2 linked regions of the Homo sapiens genome follow. The protein of the gene in region 2 purifies or fractionates together with the protein of the main gene of each other region. This does not show direct contact. Each region holds a gene or a part of one and is shown on either strand. Other genes may lie near its edges. The genes, in order: PDIA5 and RNASET2.

Region 1 (15,471 bases), on a different chromosome or scaffold from region 2:
TCAGGCTGGAGTGCAGTGGCACAATCACAGTTCACTGCAGCCTCAACCTCCCAGGCTCAAGCAATCCTCCCACCTCAGCCTCCTGAGTAGCTGGGACTACAAGTGTGCACCACATGCCCAGCTAATTTTTAATTGTTTGTAGAGATGGGGTCTTGCTATGTGGCCCAGGCTGGTCTTGAACTCCTGGCCTTAAACAATCCTCCTGCCTTGACCTCCCAAAGTGCTGGGATTATAGGTATGAGCCCCCATATGAGGTATCAGCCCTAATTTTATTTCCAGGCCCAGTCTGTTCTAGGTAACATCTCAGGGTGCTTCCAGCTTAATTTCTCCAATTCATGCTGACTGGGAGGAAGATGCTCAGAGCTAGGGGTGGTGGAGACTCACTGAGCTCTAGCTAAGGGACAAGTAAAGCCTGATCAGGACTTCTGTGTTGTTTCCATGGCAATGGGGGGTAGGCCATGTGCACTACGAGGGTGGGGACCTCGCCTGTCACCACTGCATCCCCTGGCTTAGCATGGGTCCTGGCATCCAAAAAATAAGTGCTTCCTGGGTTCACATTGCAAAGCGCCACACTCATCCTACTCTGAGAGAGGGGAGGGTGTGGAGGGGGAGGAGCAAAGTTCCACTCACATGGGGCGTGGAACATGACGAGGACAGAGGAGTGTTCCTTCACAAACTGGTCAAAGTCTTCATCGGTCAGGTGATAAACGGAGCCGCCCTCATCTGCCCAGGGAGTCTCAGGGACCTGGGGCTGTGGCGGCTGCGGACTGGAAGACCAAAAACAGGCAGAGCTCAGAGCAGGCCCTGGGGCCTTGGCAGCCCTTCTAATTCCAGGCCCCTGGACCCAAAGCTCCCCATGGGCTCGGGACGGCCCACTCCAGGGGCTCAGCCTTTAACAAACCAGAAACTGCCCTCATGGAGGTGCCGTGGGGTGAGTGGTGTGGCCCTGCCCACCTCCACCTTCCCCGCAAAGCCCCAGACAGGTACTTAGCTGATATCCTGTTACAAACAGTGGCTTCTGGCTACAGCTCTCTAGATAGCCTAAGAAATCTCACTTCCTCCTGGGAATCTAGGGGCTTGTTAGCTTTCTCAACCTATTTCAAACTTTCAGCAAACTGGAAAGAATAAATAGCAACAGTGAATGGTGACCTTTGGAAAAGCTCACTGTTGTGTTTAAAACTGCCCACTGGGCAGTGGAGGGGAGGAAGAGGGTACAGAGAGGAGGGGGTGAGGAGGAGAGAGAGAGGCCAGGTATCTCAGAAAGATCAGATCTAGGCCATGCAAGGGGAAGCTGCCACATGGGGGTGCAGGGGAAGGTTGCAGCAAGGGAAGTAAGGCTGGGGGTATCCTAACTACGACAGCGTGTATGCTACATCACTAATCCTTCCCAGAGGCCAACAACCAACTTATTTAGTTCTCCCAGAAGCCAAATCAACTCTACCACTCATCAGCTGCAAAACCTTAGGCAGCCGCCTGACCTCTCTGGAGCCTGTTTCCGCAGCGTGACTGTGTGCCAGTCCTAGGTCATCATCTGCTAGGAGGAGGGAGGCTCGCAGGGGCCCTCCCTTGCCCCAAAGTTCAGGACAAGGTGGCTGGTGGTGACACAGTCTCCCTGCTGCTTTACTGTCACAACTACCTTTGCCAGAGCACCTTAATTGCAGCTTTGAAAAAACCCTCAAGGATGACAAATGTGAAAAGACAACCATTGTGTCGCACTTTTGAGAGCCTACAGGAGGAAATATTTTAAAGTTCCAGCAGCCAGGGCTGGAAAATCCAGAGGGAGTGAAGTGGCTGACACAATGGAACTCTGCCACCCACTTCCCTCCGCAGCCGGGTATGATGTCGCCTTCAGAAGCCCTCTCTGGCCCTTCTGACTGGGCCCCACTGGCCACCATGGCCTCCCAGGTCCCAAGAAATGGAAGGAGGCAGGGAGAGGGCAAATCAATCTCAGTCCATGCATATCCAATGTCAGATGGGACTGGTGACAAAATCAAGCTTCAGAATGAGTCACCAGCCAGACAATGGTCCTAGACAAACATCATGCAATCTAGGTTCCTATACTTGGGCTCAAACTACTGACCCCTCAAAACACCACCAATTACACTTCAGAGCAATTTATCTTTACAATACACCTGCACACATACAAAATTATGTGCATCTGAAGGCATTCACTGCAGGTTGTCATAGCGAAAATTGGAAGGACGGGTTAGGTAAACTGCTGTCCATCTACACGAGGGAGGGCTGAGCACTGCAAAGAATGATGTTCTCTATGCACTGATGTGGACAAACTGCTGGAGATGGATGGAACAGTCTAGAATTTGCTAACTTTTGCATTAAAAGGGGGGAGATAAAATATACTTATTCACATTTGCTAATATCTACATACAGAAACACTCTAAGAACATAAAAGAAACTGGTCTAAGTTGTAAATTCTAGGGTATAGGAGGGAGGATAAGGAGGAAAGAAGTGAAAGCGAGACTTTTGAATGTATTCTTTTTAAGCACCTTAAAATTTTGCCAGCCTGGGCAACAGAGTGAGACTCCATCTCTACAAAAATATGAAATAAAAAAAATTAGTCGGGCATGGTGGCCTGTGCCTGTAGTCCCAGCTACTCAGGAGGCTGAGGTGGGAGGATCGCTTGAGTCCAGGAGTTCAAAGCTGCAGTGAGCTATGATGGTACCCTCTGCACTCTGGCCTGGGTGACAGAGCAAGACCTTATCTAAAAAAATAAAAAAATAAAAAATAAAAAATAAATTGAATTATGTGAATGTAATTGACTCAAAAACTAAATTTTTAAAAAGTCAAGCAAGTGCACAAATATAGGATGGAGAAGGCTATATTTTGCAGGAGTACAGGCACCGGAAGGAAAGAACGGGAGGAACTTCTAGTTAAACACAGAGGCGAATACACTCTAAAACTGCTAAAATAACAGTTCAGGAGTTTCAAAACAAAAAACAAAAAACTTTCTGGTCAGAAAAAGCAGAGTAGGGGCCCAAGAACCACACGCACACAGAAGACAAGGCTCTGAAGGGCCCAGGGGCCCACTCCTTGAAGCAGAGCTATAGCCTGTGGCTGAAAACAGGGTTTAGCGGTCACTGGAGTGGTCAGATCCTCAGATCCTAGGGCTCTCCCCTCTCCCACCCAGGAGATGACTGGAAGTTTCTTTTTGGGAGAGGACTGGAGAACTGGGCACCGTGGTAAGAGGATGTACTGGGAAGAGAGGGACTGAGTGAGAGTCTGAACCCAAAACACTGAATGATGCTTTTCACTCCCCGCCTACCCCAGGCCGTGAGCTCCTTGAAGACTGGGCTCTCCCTCACCCCTTTACTAACTCCTGCACCCAATACACAGCAGACACTCAATACATGCTCGTTGAACAGGAGCATTCCTTGAATGAGGGAAGGCTCATTCCCCTCATTCAGGGAAAAATGGCTTAAGGAACTGGAAGTGTTTAATTCGGAGAAAGGACATAAGAGAGCACAGTGGCTATCATCAAATATTCCAAACTGCATTAAGAAAAGAAATTAAGATTTATTTTCTAGGGCCCTGAAGAGGAGAACCAACACTAACAAGTGGAAGCTCCAGAGAAACTCCAGTTCGGTGTAAATAAGAATGTTCTGTCTTCAGCAGAGGAGAGGGAAAGAAGGCCAAACTGGGAGTCAGAAGACCTGACTTGAGTCCTGTTTCCTCCACTAGCCACAATCAAACAGCTTAAAACAGTGACAAGATAGTGCATTGTGGTCCTTTCTTCACCTAGCTCTCAGGCTCATATAGGCCGAGAATGGATGTGAGATGCTTTGTAACTTTATAAAGTACTACCCAAATGCTCCTAGATATCATTTATCACCTAAATCATAAGAGTCATTCAAGCATGAATGGGGAACCTCAGAATGAGTCCAATGGGAGTGAGGAAATGCAAACATTGAAAGGAGAATTGCTGGTGCAGATTTGATGACTTGTATGTTCCCTTCTGATCTGCCTTCATGCGACTGATTTCATGAGCTCTGCAGTTTGGAGAGAGCAATTGTTCCAGGCTCTCTAGGACTGGGAGGGTCACACAATCAGAACCTCATCTAAGGGAGATGCATGTGCCATAGATGAGAAGATGCAACTCTAAGCATTACGAGTCCAGAAAACTTGGTGTTTGCTAATTCAGTTCACTTCTGGTTGGCATAAAGCTACACAGGCCAAAATGACCCTGCCCAAAATGGATCACTGCTTATGTACCCCTCCACCTGTCTGCTAGCCCAACTCACCAGTGACAGCTTCAAGTGGCCAATGAGATACGTGGCCATTAGGAACACAAAAGACACCAGTGCCACGATCAACACATCTACTCCAGAGCCCTCATACACTCAGATGCCAGGGGCTGACTCCCTGCCCTGCCTCACCTGGTGCCACCCTTCCCTGGTCCAACCACCAGAGTCACGCATTGAAGGGCAGGACCTAGGTCTTCTCTCCTAGGCATTTGAGAGCCATTTGGAGAATTAGCTAGGCTGGCTTCACCCTCATCTTTGTATACTTGGCTGCACAGAAGCCCTGAGCAGCTAAGAGCCAATGGAGAAACCTAGAGAAGCAGGAAAGATGAGGTCACTACTGCCCAAAAGGATGTGAGGGGAAACTGGAAAAGGCTTAATCCATGTGGGACCGGGAAAACCCACATGCAGAGCTAGATCTATGTAGGGGAAATAATAACAATATGCTATCTTTGGGTAATAGGGTGGGGGAGGACTTTTTGTTTAACCACACTTTTAGGTTTTTCTATAATAAGCCTATCTTAGTTGAGTATCTCTGAAATCAGAAAAGACTTTAAAAAATTAAGCCAGCTGGTAGCAGAATGACATTACTAGCTCTTGCAGAGGATAAGGCCGTTAACAAGAGCTCCTTCTCTCCCACAGCGGGGGATGGGGGGAAGTAGGAAGTGGGGATGGGGTACCCAGGACCAGAGACTGGAGGCAGCTGTGGGGTGCAGGCCAGCCGGAGCAATGCGGGTGGGGGAGCCGGGATGGGGTGTGCCGAGAGGAGAGGGGTGGGAGGATGGAGTAGGAGGCTCCAGCGGGGAGATAATAGCCTGTTTCAGAAACACCATTGATGTGCTCCCTTTGTCTAGGGTTAGCAGGTAATTCTGAATACTTAAAAAAAACCACATAAACCTTATCCTTCCAAAAAAGATATGAGGGTGTTTTGAAATCAGAAAAGGTTAGAGAAGGGAAGGGAAGCAGACAGATTTTATGCTCTAGTGACAAATGAGATTGCTATTTGTTGAGACCTTCTCCCAAAGCAGAATGAGATGTGTCTGGATAGAGGAGAGGACACGCTTATTATCAAATGAAAAAGGAAAACAGGAAAGCAAAGGCCCAGGTTAAGACAATGAACACATGATAATGGGCAGCAGCCTTCCCAGGCAGGGGCTGGAAATGAGGTAGCCGATGGGGACAGAGATGTGAGAATGCTTCCAAGAAATAAAAGACATGATGCAAACATGTGCTAGCACTTGTGCCTTATCTCCCGAGAGTAGGCAGAACAGAAGATGGAGACTCTCCACCTTTAGAAATCTAACAGTTAGTTTCATGTGCATTTTTTTCCTGGTACAAAACCCACCCTTCTTTCCCATTTTGAAAATACACATTTTCAACCTCCATATCTTGGATAACTAATTCTTTAACCCTGGGGTTTGCACACTGTGTTCCTAAGGTAATGATGTCAATAAATGTCCACTGTGCCGGCAGCTGAGGGGAGGGGCTCCGAGCAGAACTTGAGGAGGCTAAGTTGGACTGTCGGGGCTGCAGGGAGCTGGGTTGGTGGCGGGGACCCATCAGGGCCCTGCTACTGCTTACCGGCACCACCCCTTTACTGTGCCTCAGGGACCTCATTCATAAAATGAAGAGAACGGTAACATCTTCCTTACAGTGCTGTTGTGAGGATTAAATGAGAATCCATGTAAAGTGCTTAGAACAATGTCAGCCACAAAGGAGAGCCCAAAAGATGTTGGCTGTTGTTACTCCAGCACATATGCACAAATACTCATGAAGCAGCAGTGGCTGGTAAGTGCCAAACTCGTGACACACAGAGCGCAGCCTGAGTAGGGTGCGTGCTCAGCGAGGGTGGCCTGGGGAGGCTTCCAGAAGGGGACATCGTGAGCCTGTCGTGGAAGTGCTGGTGAGAAGTGGGAATGGGGTGATCTGGCAGGACAAAGCAGCAGGCCTAGCACAGTGGAGGCTCCAGGTAAGGAGGCAGGAGCCAACAGGGTGGTGGGGTTTGGCATTACAAGGATCTAATCATGTTATAAAACAGGGATCACAGGTTGCAATGAAGCAATGCCTGTGGGGGTTGAACAGTAAAGCACTCAGCAAACCTAAGGCATTAGAATATTTCTTAGTACCTTCACAGCACCTAAGACAGTGCTGTGTTTGAAATAAGTGTTCAACTGACAATTCTATTTTCAGAGAGACCTGCAGTGGAACCTCTCTCAAACCTGGTAGCCTGGGTGAGAAATACCTCTATCCATCAGATAGATGTGTTGAGGAGAAACTTGATGTGAAATGTGGGAAGAATTCAGAAAGGCCCTGACTATTCCAGAAGAGCTGACAGGCTTAGGCAGCCCCTCCCCAGTTCCAACCCGTGGAGACGGGAGGTAGGGGAGACAGACTCCACACCCAACACCCAGGCAGGTCTGATCATCACAGGCCAAAGTCACACCAAATCCTCATGGCTCCTGCAACCTAAATTCCCACAATCCCCACAGTGGCCTAGACTCAAGCCAGAGACAGCTGTGTAGGCAGTACCACAATTCCCTTCCTCATTCTTTCCCCCAACCTCCAGCCAGAGCCCTGCGACCCTCAGGCCCGGCAGATGCCCCGCCCTCTGGGTCCACGCCCACTGACACACACACACCCCACTTACTTCTTCAGCCACTCCACAATGTCCTCAGCTGTGGACCCATAGTTGTCATACTGGAACAAGAACCGTCCTTTCCTGTGAAACGTGGAGAAACAACGTGGGCTCAGTCACGGATGCAAATGCCACCCTGAGATTATGGTCAATCACCAGGGAGGGAGGTGAGCTTTAGAAGGAAAGTGGGGGACGTACTCAAAATAGCAGATGGTGGGGAAGCCGCGCACGCTGTACTCCTCCTTGATGTTTTCAAATTCAGAGGAGTAGACATTCATCCCGGCCAGCACCTGGGAGGAAGCGGAGAAGAGCCGTGTGGAGCCTGTGCCCCACAGACACCCTCTAGTCCACACGCCATCTGTCCAGCTGCTGTCCCACCAGAAAGACATATGGGACAAAGCCCCACAGACTGATGTGCATCAGGGCTGCTGAGAAACAAGGCCAGCGAAGCCAGCCGGGAATCATGACCTGGCGCTGGAGAAGTCAGGCAGCTGGGCCGAGTGCTGCACTCCGCACGCCTGCTCCCTCTGCCTCCCTGCAGGAAGAACCACCCCAGAGCAAAACCAACGTTCTGAGGGTTGCAGAAGAAGCCGGGCCTTGCCATCAAGTTCACATTACTCTCAGAGAGGGGCCACTGCCAAGGATGTGTTACGCCTATTTCTCTGTTCATGTCAACTCGGGTTGTACTCTTTCCTAGGCTATGGAAATAAGTGGCTTTCATACACCAATTCAGCTCTGTACAACGTCCTTAGACACCTTCCTGGATACCTCACGGTTTGCTCACCTAGGCTTGAGTGTGACGTTTCCAAACCTCACAGCTTATATGTGGCCAGGGAGGCCGTGTGGTTCTCATAACACAACATGAGAAACGAGGCACCTGCCTAACTCTCCTCCTTCCAGGCCGTGCTGTGTCTCCCCAGTGTTTCCTCCTGTTGGTGACCATTACCCACAGCCTGGCTGGATCATCATCTCAGAATTCTGAACATATTCTGGCTCCAGGGGTCCACATGTCCACTATCCCTGAATCAGAAAGAGTATTTTAGTAGCTGGGTAACCGACGATGTAGCTAAATACTAAGACTGACTCATATAAGGAATCCCCTAAAACTCCCTCTGCAGTGGCATGATCATAGCTCACTGCACCCTCTAACTCCTGGGCTCAAGCAATCCTCCGCTGTCAGCCTCCTGATTAGCTGGGACCACAGACATGTGGCAGTATGTCCGGCTAGTATATTTTTCTTTTTGGTAGAGATGAGGTCTTGCTGTGTTGCCCAGGCTGGCTTCCAACTCCTGGGCTCAAGCGATCCTCCCACTTCAACCTCCCAAAGCACTGGAATTACAGGCATGAGCCAGCATGCCCAGCCAGGACTTTGAATCTGTTCTTACCAGAGAACACAGCTAGAATGGCCCGACACACAAAGGTTGTTCCACAAAGCAGAGTGGCATAGAAGCGAGGGAAAAGTAAGTAAAAAAAGCCAGCAGTAGTTACAGAAGCAGAGAGAAGAAACCCAGGAAGCTGAACTTTACTGAATAATACATAAGGACACAGAGAGAGAGGAAAATAAATAACCGTTTCAGTGGACAATAAATTGATTGCAAAGACAGCTTCCACTTATGAGTCATGTGACCTTGGGCAAGTCACTCACCCTCACTGAGGTCCCTTGCTGGAAGATGTGACCATCAAAGGGCTCTTTAGAGAACTAAATGAGATGAGAGGTTTTAGCACAAAACTGGAGCTCAGTAACTGTCATCTTCCTACCAAGTCTTCCTGGTGATGGGAGCCACTGTGCCTCTGGCCTCTCCATTCCTAGGGGCACCTGGATATCTTTCCAATTGTTTTAAGTCCCTAGCACAAGGCCTCACATACAGCAAGGACACAATAAATGCTCACTAAATTCACTGTTTTTTTTTTCCTAGCCCATTTTAGGATGCAGCAAATAATACAGGAAGAATAAATTTGAATTCGAATTTACTTGAAGCCCTGGAACGCTCTATAAAAGTCATTCTGCTCATTTCCCAGACTGCTCCAGCGGCCTGTTCCAGTAATATTTGTCTTCTTTAAAAGTCCTTTTTTTTTCTGCCTAATTGATCTCCCCAGTGTCAGTGCACATTCACCACAGATTAATCTTACACGTCCTCCTCGCTCATTACATCACTTCCCTGCACAAAACCTTCCAATTCCATTGAATATAGGCTAAAATCCAGCTCCACATTCAATGCCCATATGTTACCTATTTCATTTTTGAATCTTTCTTTCTTACAAAACTCTTCATTGTACACCTGTTAGGGTCTAGATTTTTTATTCTCCCAGGAATAAGACAGTCTGAGATTTCTGCACAGGAAGGAAGTTGGACTGTCTGCCTTCTCAGACATCTTGCTGAGTGCAGCAGCAACATGCAGTGGCTGGAAGCATGGACTCAGGATGCCTGGGTTTGAGTCCCAACTCCCCATGGGGTCGCGCATTTCCTTGAATGAGTCACAGTTGTCTCTGCGTCTCACTTTCCTCATCTGCAGCCACCTCATGTGGTTGTTGAGAAGATTCAATGAAATAATACAAGATAATCAATAACACAAAATGTATTAGCTATTTTTGTTACTAGGACTAGGAGGTGCTCTATTTCTGCCCACACTTCTGGAACACTCGCTGTTCTCTCCTGGCCCCCACTTGGTGCCTTCCAGTCCCCTTACTGAGGCTGCCCATCCCCCGCCTCCTGGCGACCCTCCAGACTCACCCATCCCTTAAGGCAAATCAAACCTCACGTCTCTGGGCAGCCTTTGCAAACCACCTTCGCTTGGGGTGAGCTCTTAATTCTCCAAGTTTCTGTAGCACTTTTGTGCCATTTTGGGGGCATCTATTAGTTAATGAGGCAAAAATTTTTGAAAAACTACATACAAACACTTTCTGGAGTTAGAATTTGTGAAGTCAAATGAGGTGACACACCTGGTCTCGGCCTGTGGAGAAGATAAGAACACAGCCTCCCTGCTCCCCACTGCCATCTGCATGCTTGGGGCCACTCAGCTGGCGTGACATGCTCTTCTGTGTGTTCAGCCCTGCTGCCAGGAACCATCACGGCAGCTTCTTAGCGTGGGCTGCATGTGAGCTTGCACTCAGAGGAGAGTAAGATTTCAACAGACGTCCCGGGATGGGGAACTGGAGGCAAGGCAAAGAAAGATGTGGCCCAAGAAATGGAGCACATTTCCATCTAACTGGAAGGCAGGATACACAGAAAGGAGAAGACATGAAAGAAAAGGCTGAGTGAGTTGGCCAGGATCACTTTGGGAAAGGCTTGAAATACCTAAGAAATCGGGACTGTATTCAGGAAGTGACGGAGAGCTCCCGAGGGTTTCTAAGTAAGAAAGCAACCCTCAAACCAGTTGTATCTCTCGAAGCAGAAAGGACGAGCTATGAGGGAATGCTGTGGTCAGGAGACAAGTCAGCAGCCTTTGGCCACCAGCTAGCATAGCCCACTGGACAGGGCTGGTGGGCAGGGAGAGGATGAAGGGTGCATGAGGAAGATGCCTGATGATGCCTCAGTAAAGAGAGGTGGAGGTGGGGGGTGGGGAAAGAGCCTGGCCCCTGGGGAAAGGACTTAATGCAAAGTTCACAGTCTGCCAGATGGAAAGATACTGAATTTTCAGACATGCATTTGAGACACAAGGGAAAAAATCCAGATGGAGCTGTGAAGCAAGCCATCTGACACGTGGCACTGGCACTTAGGGGAAGGACTTGGGCTCCATGGAGCTACGTTTTGTTGAAGCTATGGACAGAGATGTGGTCACTGGAAGGTAGACTGTAATAAGACAAAACCTTGCTCCAATGTGTTAACAGGAAAGCGGAACCTTGGGAGCACCCCCATCTAGCCGGTGGAAGGAATGTGGTGCAGGGCAGCTGTAGGGAAGAGAGGGGATCAGTCATCTGTGTCTATGAGTGCTCTGTGGGGTACAGGGCTTCTTCCACACAGCCCATTTGTTCCTCACCACAACCCAGTGTGGGCAGGGTTGGCATTATCATCTCCATTTTACAGATGGAGAAATGGAGGCTCCAAGGCTAAGGAGCTTGGACCAAGATCTCCCAGCTGGTTAGCAAGAGCCAGCACTAGAGCCTGGTCTGTACAAATCTGTCGTCATGATGGTTCTATTTCATGGTGTTTATACCCAGACTGGCCCATCATGGCCGAGGTCCACCAAAGACTAGGCAAAGCTCAAAGGCTCAGTGCAGATGTCAATAACTGGCAAGGCTGGGAAGAGGCAGATGGAGACAGGGCTCATTCTGATGGCTGCTCTGAGATGGGGGCAGCGTGGCTGCTAATGAGGATGTCAATTAGCAGGAGTAGATGGGACAGACGCGATGAGTCACCAGACGTCAATGACAGCACAAAAGAGGCAGCTGTAAGTTTGGAAATGGCAAAGGCTGTGCATCCCTGACCTGGCATGCCTTCCTTCCTAATGATGTCAATCAGGTTGAACACCTCCCAAAAAATCTGTAGAGGAGGAAGATTTTTGACCCTTGCCAGAGACAGACCCAGCCAAAAAGGCTCAAAGATGACAGAGATGAAGAAGTGACAGAAGGCCCTAATCCAGCTGTGTTTCAGCAGCGAGGAGGGGGTGAACTTTGATTTCTGGGGAATAGCAGCCCATTTATTAGTCCCACCTCTTTTCTGTGTGTGAAGACAAAAAGCAATTGACACCTGTGGTCACTCAACCCCTCCAGCCAGGTCCCCAGTTTCTGGGGAGCTGCCCCTGCAGAGTAAGCCCTAGCCTCTAGGGGCCTCCTGCGTGGGTGATGCGTGCAGCGGCCAGGGCCCTTCCCTCTTTATGTAGCTGGGAAAGGGCTAGAACTTTCCAGAAGATGCTTTTCTAGGAAATGAAAGGGAAAATAGAACAAAACAAACCCCAAGCAAGAAAATATACAAACAAAGAAATGAGTTTACACAACCCAGATGTCTTAGGCCAAGGCAGCCAACACCTGGTCACAGCTTGACTTGCCCAGCTTTGCAGACAACGCCCCTGACTTTTCTGTAATGTTGAGGGAACTGGAATGGGTAACTTTTATATTTCTAGACCTGGGCCCAGGCAGAAGAAGCTGGAATTCATTTTTTCTTTTTTTTAGAGACAGGATCTCACTCTGTTGTGCAGAGCATGGTGCAATCATAGCTCCCTGCAGCCTTAAACTCCTGGGCTCAAGTGATCCTCCCACCTCAGCCTCCCAAGTAGCTAGCATTGACTACAGGTGTATGCCATTGCACCCAGCTAATTTTTAAAATTTTTTGTAGACATGGGGTTTCACTATGTTGCCCAGGCTGGTATCTAGCTCCTGGCCTCAAGTGATCCTCCCACTTTGGCCTCCCAAAGCACTGGGATTACAGGCATGAACCACCATGCCCTGCTGGAAGCTTATATTCTGAACACGAGTGGTCTTTGCAGTTAACCTTATAACCTGTCCCACAAATGTCCTTCCCACTATGCTTCCGGCCTTAATAACAAATGCTCTGAATTCCTTTAAAAGAGAGGACCATCACTTTTAATATAGAGCTTAAAATAAAACATACCCCCAGGAGTGATGAGCAAAAACCCTATTCATTCATCGGCATATACTGGATATCTACTGTGAGCTTAGCCCTGTGCTATGTGCTAAAGAAATAGACATGAACACAACTCCTGTGCCCAAGAAACTCACATATCATAATTAGTATCAAGTGCTGAACAAAGTGATCTGGAACAAAAGCAAAGATGAACGTATCTGGCTGTGCGTGACAGGGATGAGCTCTGTGGCAGCGTGGGATGGGGCCTAGAAGAATACTGAGTTTGGCAGTGGATGCAGCATTGGCTGAGAATGGCCCACGAGATGCACTGAGACTGGCATCAAGTTCTCTTCTGCTTCAGTGGGTCTGGCTGGAATAACTTGTGATCTGATTTGGGGCTGAGCTGCTTACCTTCCACAGCACAGAATTCGGGAAGTTGAGCTGAGCAGATTTCTAAGTGTATGCGGGTGCAGGCAGAGAGAATACTGTGGGTAATTAAGTCTTTTCTCCAGGCTAAATAATCTCAAAATATGGTGTCTATTGAGGTCCCAATAATGTGAAGTGAAACTTCCCTGGGGTGATGTATGTGTGCCCCAAGGCCAATGTCTCCAGGCAAGTTACTAAAAATTCATTAGTGAGAAGCAAGCAGGACCTCAGTGTCACCCCAGAATGAGGTCAAAAGAGAAAGCATTGGCTCTCTGCAGCCCCATCTTGCAGCTTGGCGAGCAGGGCCGTCTCCATGCCCAGGTGCTGCCACTTAAACTTTTTAAGTTGACTTTGAGCTAATCACCACTTAATTTGATCCACAAAGATCATGATGCAGTTTCAGGACCTCAGGTCTCCCTTAATGGGGCTTTGGCCACACTATTGAGATGGCTCCTCTTGATAACCTTTCATGAAAGATGGATGGATTTTTCCACGCTCCCTAGAGGAGCCGGCAGCTGTTTTTATGTTGCCATCAAGACACTTCTGCTACTCGGGGTAAGTGCAAAAATGGATAAACAGATATCCAAAAGAATTAGAAGCAGGATCCCAAAGAGGTATTTGCACACCCATGTTCATTGCAGCATTATGAGCAACAGCCAAGAAAGCTAGAAGCAACTCATCAACAGATGAGTGTATGAAGAAAATGTGGTATGTACATAGGGTGGAATATAATTCAGCCCTAAAAAAAGAAGGAAATCCTATGACATGCTACATGGATGAAACTTGAGGATATAATGCTAAGCAAAATAAGCCAGTCACAGAAGGACAAATACTATAGATTCCACTCATAGGAGTAACTTAAAATAGTCAAAATCATAGAAATGGGCCTGGCTAGATGGCATACATCTGAAGTCCCAGCTATTCAGGAGGCTAAGACGGGAAGATCGGTTGAGCTCAGGAGCTCAAGTCCAACCTGGGCAACATAGTGAGACCCTGTCTCTAAAACAGAATATATATATATATATATATATATAAAATCATAGAAACAGAAAGTAGAAAGGCAGTTTATCAAGGTCAGGAGTGGGGTGGGAAGGCAGAATTCATATTTAGTGGGTACAGAATTTCAGTTTTGCAAAATGAAAAAGTTCTAGAGAAAGGTTGCACAACAGTGTAAATATACTTAATGCTACTGAACTGTACATTTACAAATGGCTAAGATAGTCAATGTAATGTTATGTGTTTTTTACCACATTGAAAAAATAATAGACACAAGGCAGAGAACAAAAAAACCTGGCAGGGTGGGGGAACACAGAGGTACCAGGGAGCATTTGGTGACTGACCCTCGGCCCTTCTGTGTGAGGTCCATCCCCCCTCCCAGCTCTCTTCTCCCCCACAACACTCCAGGCTCCCCTCCTACCTCCCCGCCCCATCCCAGCTGCTCCTACTTCTCTGAAGGCCCATTTCCTTAGTGGCTCCTCTTCCTCCTCCTGTAGAGGTGGGCATCCCTAGGACACATGTGTCTCCATTCTGCCTATCCTTCCCTACACTCCTTCTGGGAGAATGCCTGCATTCCCAGGTCTTTCGCTCCCCATCCAGCCCCACCTCCTCCTCCTCTGGTTCCCACCGTTCTTCCCGCCCCACAGGAACCACAGAGCCTGGGAAGCCGGGACAGGCCTTTGCCTCTGTGAGCCCCCTTTATGCTTCTGGTCCACCCCTAAGGTCATCACACCCTCTTCTTTGCCACTGGGCTCCATAGCAGCTGCCTCAGCTCACTTCAGAGCCCAGCCCTCAAAATTCTGGACCCACGATGTTCCGACCTTGGTCCCTGGCCCCCTGACAATGCCACATGTGCATCTTGCTGGTGTCCTATTTCATCACTGGCCTTTGGCAGGTGTCAAACTCTCCTGGTCCCAGCAACTTGGTGGAGTTCTCAACCTTCACAGAGAACAGGTCTCTGAGCTCCATGCAAGGCTGCGATTCAGCAACGGCCCAGGCAGCAGGGTCAGTCATCCTCACCATTTCAAAACCTGTCCCCACCCCACCCCTGGCACCCTTCCTCCGCCAAGTCCAAGAGTGACCCAGCCCTGCCAGGCAATGGCGCCTCACTTACGGCGTGGCCTCGCAGCTGAGTCGCAGCCTTCTGGAAATGCGGCATCATCCTCTTGCACATGCTGCACCCTGGTCACAGGCAGGAGAGAGACCACATCCGGTTACAGGGATGGCTGAGCCCTTGCACCCTGCCCTGCCTCCCCATGGCCATCCTCTACCCAACAAGCACTTATCCAGCCTTGAGAAGCTCAGGACTATTCCAGACCCTGGGGACACAAAAGGAACAGGAGGTGGGCGTCTCAGCCCCCAAAGAGCTTACTGTATCAGTGGTGCAAAACAAGGCACTGCCCAGCAGCCACTCATAAATGTTGGACTAAAGAAACAAACATGACATGATGGGAGAAGAGCAGAGCCCAGAATACTTCAGCACTGATAATGAATTCAACAGAGATTCAGAAAACCAGAACAGGTGTCAAGAGAGCAACTGCTGCACGCACAGCAAAAGGCCACCCCTCACTGCCCAGGCAGGGCCTGCAAATGAGCTGGAGTCAAATGCCATTATGAAGAAAAATGTGTGACCACGA
Region 2 (15,905 bases):
TTAGTTGTACATTGGAACTAATTATGCAAGCTCTCAGTATAAAAGGAAAAAAGGGTTCAAGCGTGGTGGCTCACACCTATAATCCCAGCACTTTGGGAGGCAGAGGCAGGAGGATTGCTTGAGCTCAGGAGTTCAAGACCAGCCTGGGCAACATGGTGAAACCCTGTCTCTACAAAAATTAGCCAGGTGTGGTGGCATGAACCTGTAGTCCCAGCTACTTGGAAGGCGCTGAGGCAAGAGGATAGCTTAAGCCCAGGAGGTGGAAGATGCAGTGAGCCCAGATCACATCACTGCACTCCAACCTGGGCTACACAGCCAGACCCTGTCTCAAAAAAAAAAAAAAAGGATGAGCTGCAGGGTGAGAATTGGAGCTGGTAAAGCATTTTTTACCCTTGGGTGAAAAACCTTATTTTACATAGTCGGAACCTGAGGCTGGAAAGCTTAGCAACACCCAGGAAGATGAGACTATCAATATGCTTACAACAAAACTACCAAGACTCAGACGTTTGTAACAAACTCTCCATCTAAAACCAGGCAGAGTGATGTGACTGCAGGAGACCCCCTCCCACACAGATGCCCCCCTCCCCTATTCACGGAGAAAGTAATGGAGAAGCTAAAGAAAGTCAAAGAAGAAAGAAAAATCACCAAGGTCTCAAAACCAGTTAGAACTTGGGAAAATGCCCGCTGACCTATGAAGCCCTCGTGGTCTGAATCAACCATGTTCTCGCAAATCTTGCCTGCTCAAGTTTGTCCGATCATATCAGTTGCATGAATTATGGGCTGGGGTGGGGGATCCACATATGACAGCCTGTTTTATGCTAATGTTTACTTCCAGCCAGACATCATTCCAAGTTACATTCTGTACCTTAACTGATTTCTCCTGAAGCCAACTCTGTGAGGCTGACTGTTACTATTTCTACTTTACAGATGAGGAAACTGGGGCATAGAGAGCTCAAAGGTCCCACACCTGGGTGTGAACTAGCAGTTTCCACTCAGCCAGCAAGGGCCAGCATGCCACAGACTTCCCCAGTGAGAGGCTCTGAACCTCATGGCCAATAAATAAGGACATAAATGTAGCTCTTTTTCAGAAAATACACTTTCCGGAACACTGAAATATAATGCTACATTTTAATGTACATGATTAAAAATATATACCTAAGGTGTTTAAAAAGTAAAACCCTGGCCGGGTGCAGTGGCTCACGCCTGTAATCCCAGCACTTTGGGAGGCCGAGGCGGGCGGATCACCTGAGGTCAGAAGTTCGAGACCAGCCTGGCTATTAAAAATACAAAAATTAGCCAGGCGTGGTGGTGTGCATCTGTAATCCCACCTACTCAGAGGCTGAGGCAGGAGAATCGCTTGAACCCGGGAGGTGGAGGTTGCAGTGAGCTGAGGTCACGCCACTGTACTCCAGCCTGAGTGACAGAGTAAGACTGTCTAAAAAAAAATAAATAAGTAAAACCCACCTTTTCCACACCTACTATGTAAGTAAGAAATCCTATTAACCCGATCATTACCCAAATAGAAAGAAATAATATGGTATTCAAATATTGGTATCTTCCACAGAATTAAAGTTGGAGTTCTTTGCAGCACCGCCTGTTTACCCCTAATTAATTTGGGCGGCTGCCACACACACACACGCACACACGCACGCACACACGCACGCACACACGCGCACACACGCACGCACGCACACACACGCACACACGCACACACACACACGCGCACACACGACACACACGCACAGACGCGCACACACGACACACACGCACACACACGCACGCACGCACACGCACACGCACGCACACACACACGCACACACAAACGCACACGCACACACACACACGCGCACACACACACGCGCACACACACACACACGCGGAGGGCGAGCCAAGGGAAGGGATTCAGAACAGGATACTCAAAAAGAGGAAGAACCGTCGTTTCACCACCCGCCGCAGTGAAAGCTGAAATTAAGTGTCCCCTCCACGACTTCTTCGACCTCTGAGAGAACTTCGAGTGCAGGAACAGTGCTCCACCAAGCCTGCCACCTGCTTTGTCGCGTCCTAGGCTGGGAGCAGTCTGTGGGATGAGTTTCCAGTCCAGCTCCAGGCTGGAGTGTACCCAGGACCTCACCCTACCCCCTACTCCTTCCCAGGGGTCACCCCGGGGAGTGTTCAGGGCTCCCCAACCCACTTCTTCCCAGGAGTCACCCCAGAGCGTGCCCAGGGCTCCCCCCAACCCACTCCTTCCCAGAGGTCACCCCGGGGCGTGCTCAGGACTCCCCTCATCGCACTCCTTCCCAGAGGTCACTTCTGAGTGTGCTAAGGGCTCCCCCCAACCCACTCCCTCCAGGGGTCACCCCGAGGCGTGCTCAACTTCCCAACTTCTTCCCAGGGGTCACCCCGGAGCGTGCTCGGCTCCCCCCGCCCTCCCCAGTCGCTGCCCGGGGCTCAGCGACCGCCGACCCCGAGAGCTGCAGCCTTCACCCAGTGGAAAGCTCTAGGGCCCGGCTCCCACGCTCCCCACTTTACCTCGCAAGGTAACTCACCGCAGGCGCTTGTCCGCACCGCCCAGGCAAAGCAACGCCAGGCAGAGGCAGCCCAGCAGGGCCCCGCGCAGGGCTGCAGGGCGCATGGTGCCGACCTGCGGAGAGAACGCTGCCAGCTGCCGCTCCGGCTCCCACTTCCCACCTGCTGCCCGAGGAAGACTTCCGGGAGAAACGCTGTCTCCGAGCCCCCGCGCCGCCGCGCTCCCTCCGCTGCAGCAGCGGCCACCGGGTGCGCCCGGAGCCCTGGGACGGCCTAAACCAGTATCTCGCGGGCCCCGCGCCGGGCTCCGGGAATGGCCGCAGCAGCCCTGGCGACCCGGGCCCCTCGGAGCTCCCCTTCAGGATCGTGCACCAAGCGCGCACGTCCCGGGCTCTGCTTCGCGACCCACAGCGACCCCAGCTCCTCCACGCTGCAGCCGCCGTCCGCCCACGACCACGGTCAGTCGCGTTGCTCCCAGCCCAGGGCGCCCTGCGGGCCTGCACCGGAGCAGAGAGCCACGCCCCCAGGACGGCACGCCCCCGCCGGTGGACACGCCCCCCAGAACGGCACGTCCCCGCCCGGCGTTCACGCCCCGCCCCGTGGTTGGCTCAGAGAGGCCGAGGCAGGAGCAGCTCCGCGGGCCTTGAGGGCGTGTCAGGCGGCTGTGTTCCTTCGCCACGCAGGCGCCCCGCGCCTTTTCCCGCAGCTCTGCGCCACTCCCACACTCCCGGGTCCGAGCTAACCTAGACCACCCGTGAGGACCGCCCTCGGGGGGACCGCCCGTGTCTGCGCCATCCCCCGCCAGCAAGTGGGCGTGCGGGCCCCAGGGCCACTCTACTCTCCAGGGACAGCCCCCAGCCCGACCCGCGCACCCTGCAGGCCCGCGGTCCGCACGCAGCACCCGCTTTCAAAAACTGCGCCCTGCAAGCTGCCCGGGAGCTCCTGACTGCAGATGGTGCTTGGCCGCCCAGGCTCCCCGCAGCCTCCCGCCACCTCGGCGCTCCACTGCGCAGCCCGAGGGACGGCTCCAGAATTAGGAGGGGACCTACTCGGGTCACTCTCCTGGAAACCTCTCCAGTCTCCCGGTGCTAGGTGCTGGGAGCACCAACATTCCTAGAAGGGCCTGGCCCTCACCCAGCCCTGGGCCTCACCTGCCCCTCCCCGCGGGCCCCAGGAGCCCGGAAGTCATCTCTGTGGGGGCAGCAAAGAGCCGCCTCGGGGCGCGACCTGGGAAGTCATCTTGTGAGGGATCCCCTCCCAGAGGGACGGGCCACCCCCCACGGATGAAGGGGACTTCATGTCAGCCCCACCTTGGCGTAGCCAGGGCCAGTCCCATAGGCCCGGTCTCCTCCCCCAACACCCTGGCCTTCCCAGCCCTTCAGAGGCACGGGTTCCCCTGCACCCGCGGCCCCGCCCACGGGCTGTGCACCCGGCATTGTCTCTGCAGATGTTTCTCCTCTTTCCCTTCCCTGTCCGCACACCCACAGCTAGTTAAGGCTATTCCTATTTACACGTCGAGTAAACTGCGCCTTCCTCGGGGTCCTCTGCCACTGGTAACTGTCTAAATAGCAGGTGGGCCTGTAGCCTGCTCTCCCACAGGCCTGGACCTTGCCTGCATGCATTACCATTCTTTGAAACAAAATATTTAAATGATTAATCTGTTTTTCCCACTAGACTGCAAGGCAAGGCCCATGTCTATTTTGCCCACCTTGAGTCCCTGCCACTGAGCACAGTGGATGGGGGACAGTCGGTGCTCAATAAAATGCCACCTGTGGAACAGATGGGGGGGGAAAATGGCTGACACCTCCTTAGCTCCTCCAGGACCTCCTACAGGTCATGGTGTTATTCTCGTTCTCCTTTTCCCTAACGACTTATTTGTTTCTTTCCGGCTCCTTTCATTCCTTCCTCTCAAGAATATAGGCACACGCCACAGTTCTTTTTCTCTTTTCTTTTAAGCTAAAAAAATAATTTTCTTAAAACAAAAGTGCTTCCCAGAATCCTCATTTTCCTTTAAATCACAGTCCGGTGTGTTTAAACAGCCCCTTGTCAAGGAGGGCTGTTGTGACCACTGCCAAATATAAAGCAAATCTGGACTCGGGGAGGAGTGGTGTTATGAGGACCATTATTGCAGGGGCCTGGGGGCCTTTTGTCCCTACTAAAAATACAAAAATTTGCTGGGCGGGGGTGGCACGCGACTGTAATCCTGTGGCAGGAGGAGCGGCAGACAAAACCTCTCAGACACCGAGCTATAGAAGGAAGGGCTTTATTCAGCTGGGAGCATCGGCAAGCTACTGCCTTAAAATCCGAGCTCCCCGAATGCACAATTTCTGTCCCTTTTAAGGGCTCACAACATTAAAGATTTCACATGAAAGGGTCGTGATTGATTTGAGCAAGCAAGGGGTACGTGACGGGCTGCATGCACTGGTGGTCAGAGAGAAACAGAACAGGGCAGGGAGTTTCACAATGTTCTTCTATACAATGTCTGGAATCTATGAATAACATCGGTCTCTAAGTCATGAGTTGATTTTTAACTACTAGGTTTAGGCCAGGCAGGCCCAGGTCCGGTTTTGGGCCTGGCGCCGGGCTGCCTGTCTTTGATTTCACTTCCTTGTTTTTTTCTTAAAACAGGTACTGAGTATAAAACAATATAAAACAATATGAGAGGGTCTCTCTCTTCCCTCAATCCCAGCTACTCTGGAGGCTGAGGCAGGAGAATCGCTTGAACCCAGGAGGCAGAGGTTGCAGTGAGCCGAGATCGCGCCACTGCACTCCAGCCTGGGCGACAGAGTGAGACTCGGTCAACAACAACAACAAAAAGAATGAATGAAAGAAAGAAGAAAGAGAGAAAAAGAAAGAGAGAGAAAGAATGAACTGGGAATGGAGAAGTGGGATGAGAACCTGCCTTCATAGGACATTAGATCAGAGAAGGTTGACCCCGTGGCCAGCCTGTTCTCAGGGGGGACTGACTCAGGCTAAGATGAGGCCAAAAGTCCTCAGCCTCGGGGGAAGAGAGGAGCCTCACCAAGTTTGCTTAACAAGTGTGTTATTTCTATTGACTGGCTCATCATTGATGAGGTGAAGAATGGGAATTGGAGGATCTGTGTCTGGCTTTGTCCTAGGTAATGGGTAGGGGGTGGAGTGAGGGGAGCATCCGTCACTTTTCCTTTTTTTTTTTTTTTTTTTGGAGACAGCGCCCAGCTGCATCACTTCTATCACTCTTACCTATGTTATGTGGGGAAGAAGGGGGTCTCTCGCAGCAAGCCACTTTCCACAACTCACAGAGAGGAGATTTTTATCAGATAAATTCAGCAGCGTCCTACCCAGCCTGAAGAAGCCACCCAGTCATTTCCTGTTGCACTTCCTTGTTTATTTTCGACACAGTTCTCCCCACCCCTGAGAATTCTTGTCACTTCCTCCTGTACTGCCCACTTCTACTCCCCCACCCCCACATCGGAAGCTAATGAGGAGCTTCAGGCCCCTTGCTGGCATGGGCCCCACCAAGACCCCATATCTCATTCCGTATTCACAATTTTACCTTCTTGTTCTTAAAGAAGGACATCCAAATGGAAAAGCTCTCAACCCCCCAAAACTTGGATGTGAACCTGGAGCATCTGTCATCTGTCTTGTTCACTACTTGTCCACCTACCAGGATCCTAAACGGAACCCTACGTAGGGAAGAGGCAGTGGCTGTAAAGGCTGGATTTGGGTCTGGAAGCCGCCCAGCTTTACGAAAACAAAGAGGGCTCCAGCATCAAGCAGGTGGGCAGGGGCCAGAGTGGGAATTACATTGACTCACACAACATAGTGTAAAAGGGTACAAACTATGAGGTTTAAAAGATGCTGCTGGCTTGTATAGAAACATGTCCTTAGGAGAGGGGAGGGGGACAGGATGGCAACAGCCATGTCTATGAACAGACATCCTTAAATCCTTGTTAATTCTGAAGAGACCAAGATACTTTCACCACACAACCTCTTCTTGGCATTAGCTCCAGGTTTCCTGTTTCCATGCCAGCTTTTGCTGGGTTATGCTACAATAATACACCGCCCCCAAATCTCAGTGTCTCACTTAAACGGAAGTTGATCATTTATCATTCATTTGCCCATATTCCATGCTGGCTATGCGTCAGATGCCACTGTGGTCCACGGTATTTTTCACTCTGGAACCCAGGCGGTAGGAACAGCCCATATCTGGTGCTGGCCATTCCAATGGCAGAGCAGTGGCACAACTACACAGTTTAGGATTCTCATGCTCTAAAGAGCTTTGTCACACTTGAAAGAATCTCACCTTAAAAACTCCTTTCCATCCTGAATTACTTATTTGCTGAGAAAGTGAGGCCAGCTGCTGGGTGTTTCCCTGCCCTTTCTCTTCTTTTTCTTTTTCTTTTTTTTTTTTTGAGACAGAGTCTCACTCTGTCAGCCAGGCTGGAGTGCAGTCAGTGGCACAATCTCGGCTCACAGCAACCTCCGTCTCCCAGGCTCAAACAATTCTCCTGCCCTAGCCTCCCGAGTAGCTGGGATTACAGGCGTGTGCCACCACGTCCGGCTAATTTTTGTGTTTTTAGTAGAGACGGAGTTTGACCATGTTGGTCAGGGTGTCCCAGCACCTCTGGCCTTGCCATGCCAGCCTGGCCACTGTGGTACACATTTTGTGGAACTCTTTTATTCTGAGCTGTGGCCATGACAAAAGGAGGACAGGAGAGAAACAGAAAAGACCAGTCATGTGTTTCTCACAATATAATTTGTTCTTCAAGTGTGACTTAACTGATGGAACCAGAGGGAAAAAACTTTCTGGAACTAGACAATAAGAATAAATCAGATCAAATAGCATGCTATTATGAAATGTGAAGCAAAGCAATATATTACATTTAATCATGGATGTCAAATTTTCAAAGCATATTTACTCTGAAAAAGGAAAAGAAAAAAACCCATGAGCTTACACACACACTCACATGCACACACATACACACACATGCACACACATACTCCTATACACGTGGATATTAGGCTGCTTACTTGAGCTGTCTTACAATTATTTATCTTAAAAAGATAAGCAAGGCATTTTAGACTTCTGAGATTTTACTACATAACTGAGCTGCTTTACTTTAGATAAGCCCTTCTGCATTACAAATAATAGTTTAATATTACATTAACAGTTAATTTTGGCTGGGCTCGGTGGCTCACACCTGTAATCCCAGCACTTTGGGAGGCTGAGGCAGGCTGATCACCTGAGGTCAGGAGGTCAAGACCAGCCCTACCAACATGGTTAAACCCAGTCTCTACTAAAAATAAAAAAAAAAATTAGCCAGGCGTGGTGCCAGGTGCCTGTAATCCCACCTACTTGGGAGGCTGAGGCAGGAGAATCGCTTAAACCCAGGAGGCGGAGGTTGCAGTGAGCCGAGATGGCGCCATTGCACTCCAGCCTGGACTCCCTCTCAAAACAACAACAACAACAATTTAATAGATATTTAATAAGTATTTTTTAAAAAAATAATTTCAACTTTTATTTTAAATGTGGGGGTACATGTGCAGGTTGGTTACACGGGTATACTGCGTGATGCTGAGATTGGGGGTATGTTCATCCTGTCACCTGGGTAGTGAGCCTAGTATCGTATAGTTAGTTTTTCAACTCTTGCTCTGCTCCCTACCTCCCTTCTGTAATAGTCCCCACTGTCTACTGTTGCCATCTTGTCATCCATGGGTAACCAGGGTTTAGCTCCCACTTACTTATTTGTTTATTTTTTGACATTGGAGTCTTGCTCTGTCGCCCAGGCTGGAGTACAGTGGCCTGATCTCCGCTCACTGCAACCTCCGCCTCCTGGATTCAAACAATTCTCCTGTCATATCCTCCTGAGTAAACTGAGATTACAGGCGAGGGCCACCATGCCTAGCTAATTTTTTTTTTTTTTTTTTTTTTTGAGACGGAGTCTCGTTCTGTTGCCCAGGCTGGAGTGCAGTGGTGCGATCTCGGCTCACTGCAAGCTCCGCCTCCCGGGTTCACGCCATTCTCCTGCCTCAGCCTCCCGAGTAGCTGGGACTACAGGCACCTGCCACCATGCCCAGCTAATTTTTTGTATTTTTAGTAGAGACAGGGTTTCACCGTGTTAGCCAGGATGGCCTCGATCTCCTGACTTCGTGATCCTCCCGCCTCGGCCTCCCAAAGTGCTGGGATTACAGGTGTGAAATACCATGCCCGGCTGCCTAGCTAATTTTTGTATTTTTAGTAGAGATGGGGTTTCACCATATTGGTCAGGCTGGTCTCAAACTCCTGACCTCAAGTGATCCACCTGCCTTGGCCTCCCAAAGTGCTGGGATTACAGGCGTGAGCCACCGTGCCCAGCCTAGCTCCCACTTTTAAGTGAGAACATGTGGTATGGTATTTGGTTTTCTGTTCTTGCATTAATTTGCTTAGAATAATCCAGCTGCATCCGTGTTGCTGCAAAGGACATGATTTCATTCTTTCATTATGGCTGTGTAGTATTCTATGGTATATACATACCACACTTTCTTTGTCCAGCCTACCATGGATGGGCACCTAAGTTGATTCCATGTCTTTGCTATTGTGAATAGCGCTGTGATGAACGTGAGAGTACATGTGTCTTTTTGGTAGAATGATTTGTTTTCTTTTGGATAGATGGCCAGTAATGGGATTTTTCCTGGGTGAAATGGTAGTTTTTTTTGTTGTTTGTTTGTTTTGAGATGAAGTCTTGCTCTGTCGCCCAGTCTGGAGTGCAACGGCATGATCTCGGCTCACTGCAACCTCCGCCTCCCAGGTTGAAGCGATTCTCATGCCTCAGCCTCCCGAGTAGCTGGGATTACAGGCACCCGCCACCATGCCCGGCTAATTTTTGTATTTTTTAGTAGAGATGGGGTTTCACCATGTTGGTCAGGCTGGTCTCGAACTGCTGACCTCAGGTGATCCACCCGCCTCAGCCTCCCAAAGTGCTGGGATTACAGGCGTGAGTCACCGCGCCTGACCATGGTAGTTCTTTTTAAAATTCATTGAGAAGTCTCCAAACTGCTTTCCACGGTAGCTGAACTAATTTACATTCCCACCAACAGTGTAGAAATGTTCCTTTTTCTCCACAGCCTTGCCAACATCTGTTGTTTTTTGAGTTGTTTTTTTTTTTTTAAACAGGGTCTCACTTTGTCACCCAGGCTGCAGTGTAATGTCGTGAACATTGCTCACTGTAGCCTTGACCTCCTGTACTCAAGTAATTATCCTACCTCGGCCTCCCGAGTAGCTGGAACCACAGGTACACACCACAGCGCCTGGCTAATTTTTTAAAATTTTTTGTAGGCTGGGCGAGGTGGCTCATGCCTGTAATCCCAGCACTTTGGGAGGCCGAGGCGGGCAGATCACCTGAGTTTGGGAGTTCGAGACCAGCCTGACCAACCTGGAGAAAGCCCATCTCTACTAAAAATACAAAATTAGCTGGGCATGGTGGTGTGTGCCTGTAATCCCAGCTACTTGGGAGGCTGATTCAGGAGAATCGCTTGAACCCGGGAGGCGGAGGTTGTGGTGAGCCTAGATCATGCCACTGCACTCCAGCCTGGGCAACAAGAGCGAAACTCCATCTCAAAAAAAAACAAAAGTTTTTTTGTATAGAGATGAAGGCCTCACCATGTTGCCATAGCTGGGGTTTTTGACTTTTTAATAATAGCCATTCTGGTTGGTGTTCTGGTTTTGATTTGCATTTCCCTAACAATCACTGATATTGAGCATTTTTTCATATGTTTGTTGGCTGTTTGTATCTCTTCTTTTGAGAAGTGTCTATTCATGTCTTTTGCCCACTTTTTAATGAGATTATTTGGTTTTTGTTTGTTAAATTATTTAATTTTATGGTAGATCCTGGATATTAGACCTTTGCCAGAGGCAGAGTTTGCAAATATTTTCTCCCATTCTGTAGATTGTTCACTCTGTTGATAGTTTCTTTTGCTGTGCAGAAGCTCTTTAGTTTAATTAGATCTCACTTATCAACTTTCATTTTTGCTGCAATTGCTTTTGAGGACTTGGTCATAAATTCTTTCCAAAGGTCATTGTCCAGAATGGTGAGTCCTGGGTTTTCTTCCAGGATTCTTATAGTATGAGGTCTTTTAAATCCTTAAACCATCTTGAGTTAACTTTTGGTGAAAGATAGGAGTCTAGTTTCATTCTTCTGCATATGGTTAGCCAGCTATCCCAGCACTATTTTTCGAATAGGGAGTCCTTTTCCTATTGCTTATTTTTGTCAACTTTGTGGAAGATCAGATGACTGTAAGTATGTGGTATGCTGCTTCATTTCTGGGTTCTCTACTCTGTTCCATTGGTCTGTGTGTCTATTTTTGTACCAGTACCATGCTGTTTTGTTTACTGTAGTCTTTTTTTTTTCTTTTGAGATGAAATCTTACTCTGTGGCCCAGGCTGGAGTGCAGTGGTGCAATCTTGGTTCACTGCAACCTCCGCCTCCTGCCTCAGCCTCCTGAAGCTGAGGATTCTCCTGCCTCAGCCTCCTGAGTAACTGGGACTACAGGTGCGTGCCACCACACCTGGCTGATTTTTTATATTTTTGGTAGAGACGGAGTTTCACCATGTTGGCCAGATGGTCTAGATCTCTTGACCTCGTGATCCGCCCAAGTCAGCCTCCCAAAGTGCTGGGATTACAGGCATGAGCCACCGAGCCCAGCCTACTGTAGACTTATAGTATTGTTTGAAGTTGGATAGTATGATATATCTAGCTTTGTTCTTTTTGCTTAGGATTGCTTTAGCTACTCAGGCTCCTTTAGGTTCCATATGAATTTTAGGATAGTTTTTTTCTAATTCTGTGAAAAAATGATGTTGGCAGTTTGATAAGAATAGCATTAAGTCTATAGATTACTTTGGGCAGTATGACCATTTTAACAATATTGATTCTTCCAATCCATGAGCATCAAATGCTTTACTCTTTGTGTCATCTATGATTCCTTTTTTTTTTTTTTTTTTGAGATGGAGTCTCGCTCTGTCACCAGGCTGGAGTGCAGTGGTGCAATCTCAGCTCACTGCAACCTCTGCCTCCCAGGTTCAAGCGATTCTCCTGCATTAGCCTTCTGAATAGCTGGGACTACATGTGTGCACCACCATGCCCAGCTAATTTTTGCATTTTTAGTAGAGTCAGGATTTCACCATGTTGGCCAGGATGGTATCGATCTCTTGACCTCGTGATCTGCCCATCTTGGCCTCCCAAAGTGCTGGGATTACAGGAATGAGCCATCACGCCCAGTCTCATCTATGATTTCTTTCAGCAGAGTTTTACAGTTTGCCCTGTAGAGATCTTTCACCTCCTTGGTTAGATGTATTCCTGGATATTTTATTGTTTTTGTGGCCATCATAAATGGAATTGCTTTTTTTTTTTTTTTTTTTTTGAGATGGAGTCATGTTCTTGTTGCCCAGGCTGGAGTGCAGTGGTGCGATCTTGGCTCACTGCAACCTCTGCCTCCCAAGTTCAAGCAATTATCCTGCCTCAGCCTCCTGAGTAGCTGGGATTACAGGCGCCCACCACGATGCCTGGCTAATTTTTGTACTTTTTAGTAGAGATGGGGTTTCACCATGTTGACCAGGCCAGTCTCGAACTCCTGACCTCAGGTGATCCGCCCGCCTCGGCCTCCCAAAGGGCTGGGATTACAGGTGTGAGCCACTGCGACTGGCTTATTTTTTTTTATTTTTTTGAGACAGAGTCTTACTCTGTTGCCCAGGCTTGAGTGCAGTTGCACCATCTCAGCTCACTGCAGCCTCCACCTCCTGGACTCAAGCCATCCTCTCACCTCAACCTCCTGAGTAGCTGGGATTACAGGTGCCCGGCACTACACCAGGCTAATGTATTTTTAGCAGAGACAGATTTTCGTCATGTTGGCCAGGCTGGTCTCGAACTCCTCACCTCAAGTGATCTGGCCACCTCAGCCTCCCAAAGTGCTGAGATTACAGGTGTGAGCCACCACACCTGGCCCTGGAATTGCATTCTTGATTTGGCTCTCAGTTTGTACATTATTGGTAGATAGAAATGCTACTAATTTTTGTGTCTTGATTTTGTATCCTGAAACTTCACTGAAGTCATTTATCATTCCAGGAGCCTTTTGATAGAGTCTTTATGGTTCTCTAGGTATAGAATCATATTATCAGTGAAGAGAGATAGTTTGATTTCTTCTTTTCCTGTTTTGATGCCTTTTATTTCTCTTGACTGATTGCTCTGGCTAGCCCTTCCAAGACTACGTTAAATAGGAGAGGTGACAGTGGGCATCTTTGTCTTGTTCTGGTTCTCAGGCGGAATGCTTCTGGCTTTTCCCCATTTGGTATGTTGGCTATCAGTTTGTCATAGATGGCTCTTATTATTTTGAAATATGTTCCTTTGAGGCCTAGTTTGCTGAGGGCTTTTATCATGAAAGGATGTTGGATTTTACTGAAAGCTTTTCCCATGTCTATTGAGATGATCATATGGTTTTTGTCTTTAGTTCTGTTTATGTGATGCATTACATTTGTTGATTTGTGTATGTTGCTGCTGGATTTGGTTTGCTAGTATTTTGTTGAGGATTTTTCTGTCTGTGTTCATCAGGGATATTAGCCTGTGATTTTCTCTTTTTTTGTTGTGTCTTTGCCAGGTTTTGGTATTAGGGTGATTCTGGCTTTGTAGGATGAATTAGGGAGGAGTTTCTCCTGCTTGATTTTTTGGAATCATTTCCAAAAATGATTCCAAGAATCAATCGAAGAGCTAGGATTGGTACTAGCTCTTCTTTGAACATCTGGTAGAATTCAGCTGTGCATCCATCTGGACCAGGGCTTTTTTTGTTTGGTAGGTTTTTTATTACTGATTCAAGTTTGGAACTTGATATTGTTCTGTTCAGGGTTTCAATTTCTTCCTGATTCAATCTTGGGAGGTTGTGTGCTTCCAGAAATGTATCCATTTCCTCTAGATTTTCTAGTTTGTGCACATAGAGGTGTTGATAATAGTCTCTGAGGACCTTTTGTATTTCTGTGGTATTGGTTGCAATATTGCCTTTGTCATTTCTCATTGTGCTTATTTGGATCTTTTGTCTCTCTCGTTTTCTTTGTTACTCTAGCTAGTGGTCTGCCAGTCTTGTTTATCTTTTCAAATAACCAGTTATTGGTTTTGTTGATTCTGTGTATGGATTTTTGCATCTCAATTTGGTTTAGTTCTGCTCTGATTTTAGTTACTTATTTTATTCTGTTAGTTTTAGGTTTAGTTTGTTGTTGTTTTTCTAGTTCTTCTAGGAATTATATTAGATGGTTAATTTGAGATCTTTCTAACTTTTTGAGGTAGGCGTTAAGTGCTATAAACTTTCCTCTTAACACTGCTTTTGCTGCATCCCAGAGATTTTGGTATGTTGTATCTTTGTTTTCATTTATTTAAAATAATTTTTTAATTTCTGCCTTAACTTTATTGTTTGCTCAAAAGTCATTCAGGAGTAAGTTTTTTAATTTCCATGTAATTGTGTGGTTTTCAGAGATCTTCTTGGTATTGATTTCTATTTTATTCCACCGTGGCCCAAGATTGTGGTTGGTATGATCTTGATTTTTTGAATTTATTGAGACTTGCTTTATGGCTAAGCTAGTGATCAATCTTGATGTATGTTCTGTGTGCAGATGAGAAGAGTGGTTGATCAGTGGAGTGTTCTGTAGGTGTCAATTAGGTCCAGCTGGTTGTGTCCAATTTAAGTCCAGAATTTCTTTGTTAGTTTTCTGCCTCAATGACCTTTCTAATGGGGTGTCGAAAACCTCCGCTACTATTTTATGGCTGTCTAGGTCTTTTCATAGGTCTAGAAGTACTTGTTTTATGAATCTGGGTGCTCCAATGTTGGGTGCATATATATTTAGGATAGTTAAGTCTTCTTGTTTAACTGAAATCTTTATCATTATTTAATGCCCTTCTTTGTCCTTTTCTACTTTTGTTGGTTTAAAGTCTATTTTATCTGATATAAGAATAGTGACTCTGGCTCTTTTTTTTGTTTTGTTTTCCATTTGCATAATAAATATTTATCCAATCCTTTACTTTGAGCCTATGGGTGTCATTATGTATGAGATGAGTCTTTTGAAGTCAGCACTCGGATAGGTCTTGTTTTTTCAATCCAACTTGCACTCTGTGCCTTTCAAAAAAAATAAAGATAGGATCTCACTTTGTTGTCCAGGCTGGTCTCAAACTCCTGAGCTGAAGCAATCCACCCACCTCAGCCTCCCAAAGGATCACAAGCATGAGTCACTGTGCCTGGCCATGACATTCTTTATAACATTTTATTTTTCTTGATACAATTTCTTTTGATTTTCTTTATAAAATTCATCTTTTTGTCATTAAAGTCCTGTTTTGTACTGTCATACATTTGGCCTCAAATTCCATATCAGTTAATACACATATTGCTACTCCTGCCTTATTTTGTTAAAGGGAACCCTGGCTCTTTTTAGTTGAAATTTGTATTTAGAGGTCATAGTCCTGGCCCAAGGGTTGCTTATTGCCCCTGGGTTGGTCCTTGTTTCTAACACTTTTCAGCAGATAGAGCTAGGAAATAAATTTTGTTTGCTCATTTGTTCTATTTATGGTTTTTTTTCTTTTTCTTTCTTTTTTTCTTTCTTTCTTTTTTTTTTTTTTTGAGATGGAGTCTCACTCTGTTACCCAGGCTGGAGTGCAGTGGCGTGATCTCAGCTCACTGCAACTTCTGCCTCCCAGGTTCAAGTGATTCTCCTGCCTCAGCCTCCCAAACAGCTGGACTTACAAGTGTGTGCCACCATGTCTGGCTAATTTTTTTGTATTTTTAGTGGAGACAGGGTTTCACCATATTGGTCAGGCTGGTCTTGAACTCCTGACCTCAGGTGATCCACCTGCCTTGGCCTCCCAAAGTGCTGCGATTACAGGCGTGAGCCACTGTGCCCGGCCTTGATTTATGTTTTTTTAAAAGAAAATATATCATGAGTCCATATTGACATTTATAAATCAAATTTAGGAATAAAAGGGTTTTCTTATTTTGTTATTTTATTTTGTTTTCTTATATTGACATATCTTTGCATTTTCCTTTAATCTCTTTCAAGCATTTGGCCACAAATTAAAAAGTAGAGTCTATTTAGTCTAAAGGCTATCTTGTTCCTTCCTCAAAATATAGTTAGTCATTAAAGTAATTTACTTTTACTCTTGGAGCTGATTTTGGCTTGGGAAGCTAGTTAAACCACAAAATTGTTTACCTGGACTAGATTAAGATGATGACTTATGACTTGTCTTCACTAGCTTGAAGTAAACCAGATGTCCTCATCATTTGGCTTTTATTATTGTCCTAATAAGTCTGTGTGTGGGATGGCTAATTGGCTCATCATAGTGTTAACCTTCTGTACATGTCTGTTAATATCAACATCAAACAGAAGCATCGGG

Evidence for each region.
Region 1: the proteins of RNASET2 (region 2) and PDIA5 purify together in Homo sapiens (affinity purification with mass spectrometry; 3 studies listed by BioGRID and IntAct, with this or other methods). This does not show direct contact.

What each region holds. Positions count from the first base shown.
Region 1 is NC_000003.12:123,115,776-123,131,246, reverse strand, and holds part of PDIA5 (protein disulfide-isomerase A5 precursor), read right to left. Parts: intron 15,017-15,471; coding exon 14,949-15,016; intron 7,182-14,948; coding exon 7,090-7,181; intron 6,976-7,089; coding exon 6,904-6,975; intron 768-6,903; coding exon 631-767; intron 1-630.
Region 2 is NC_000006.12:166,953,551-166,969,455, forward strand, and holds the start of RNASET2 (ribonuclease T2 precursor), read right to left. Parts: upstream 3,001-15,905; 5' UTR 2,633-3,000; coding exon 2,547-2,632; intron 1-2,546.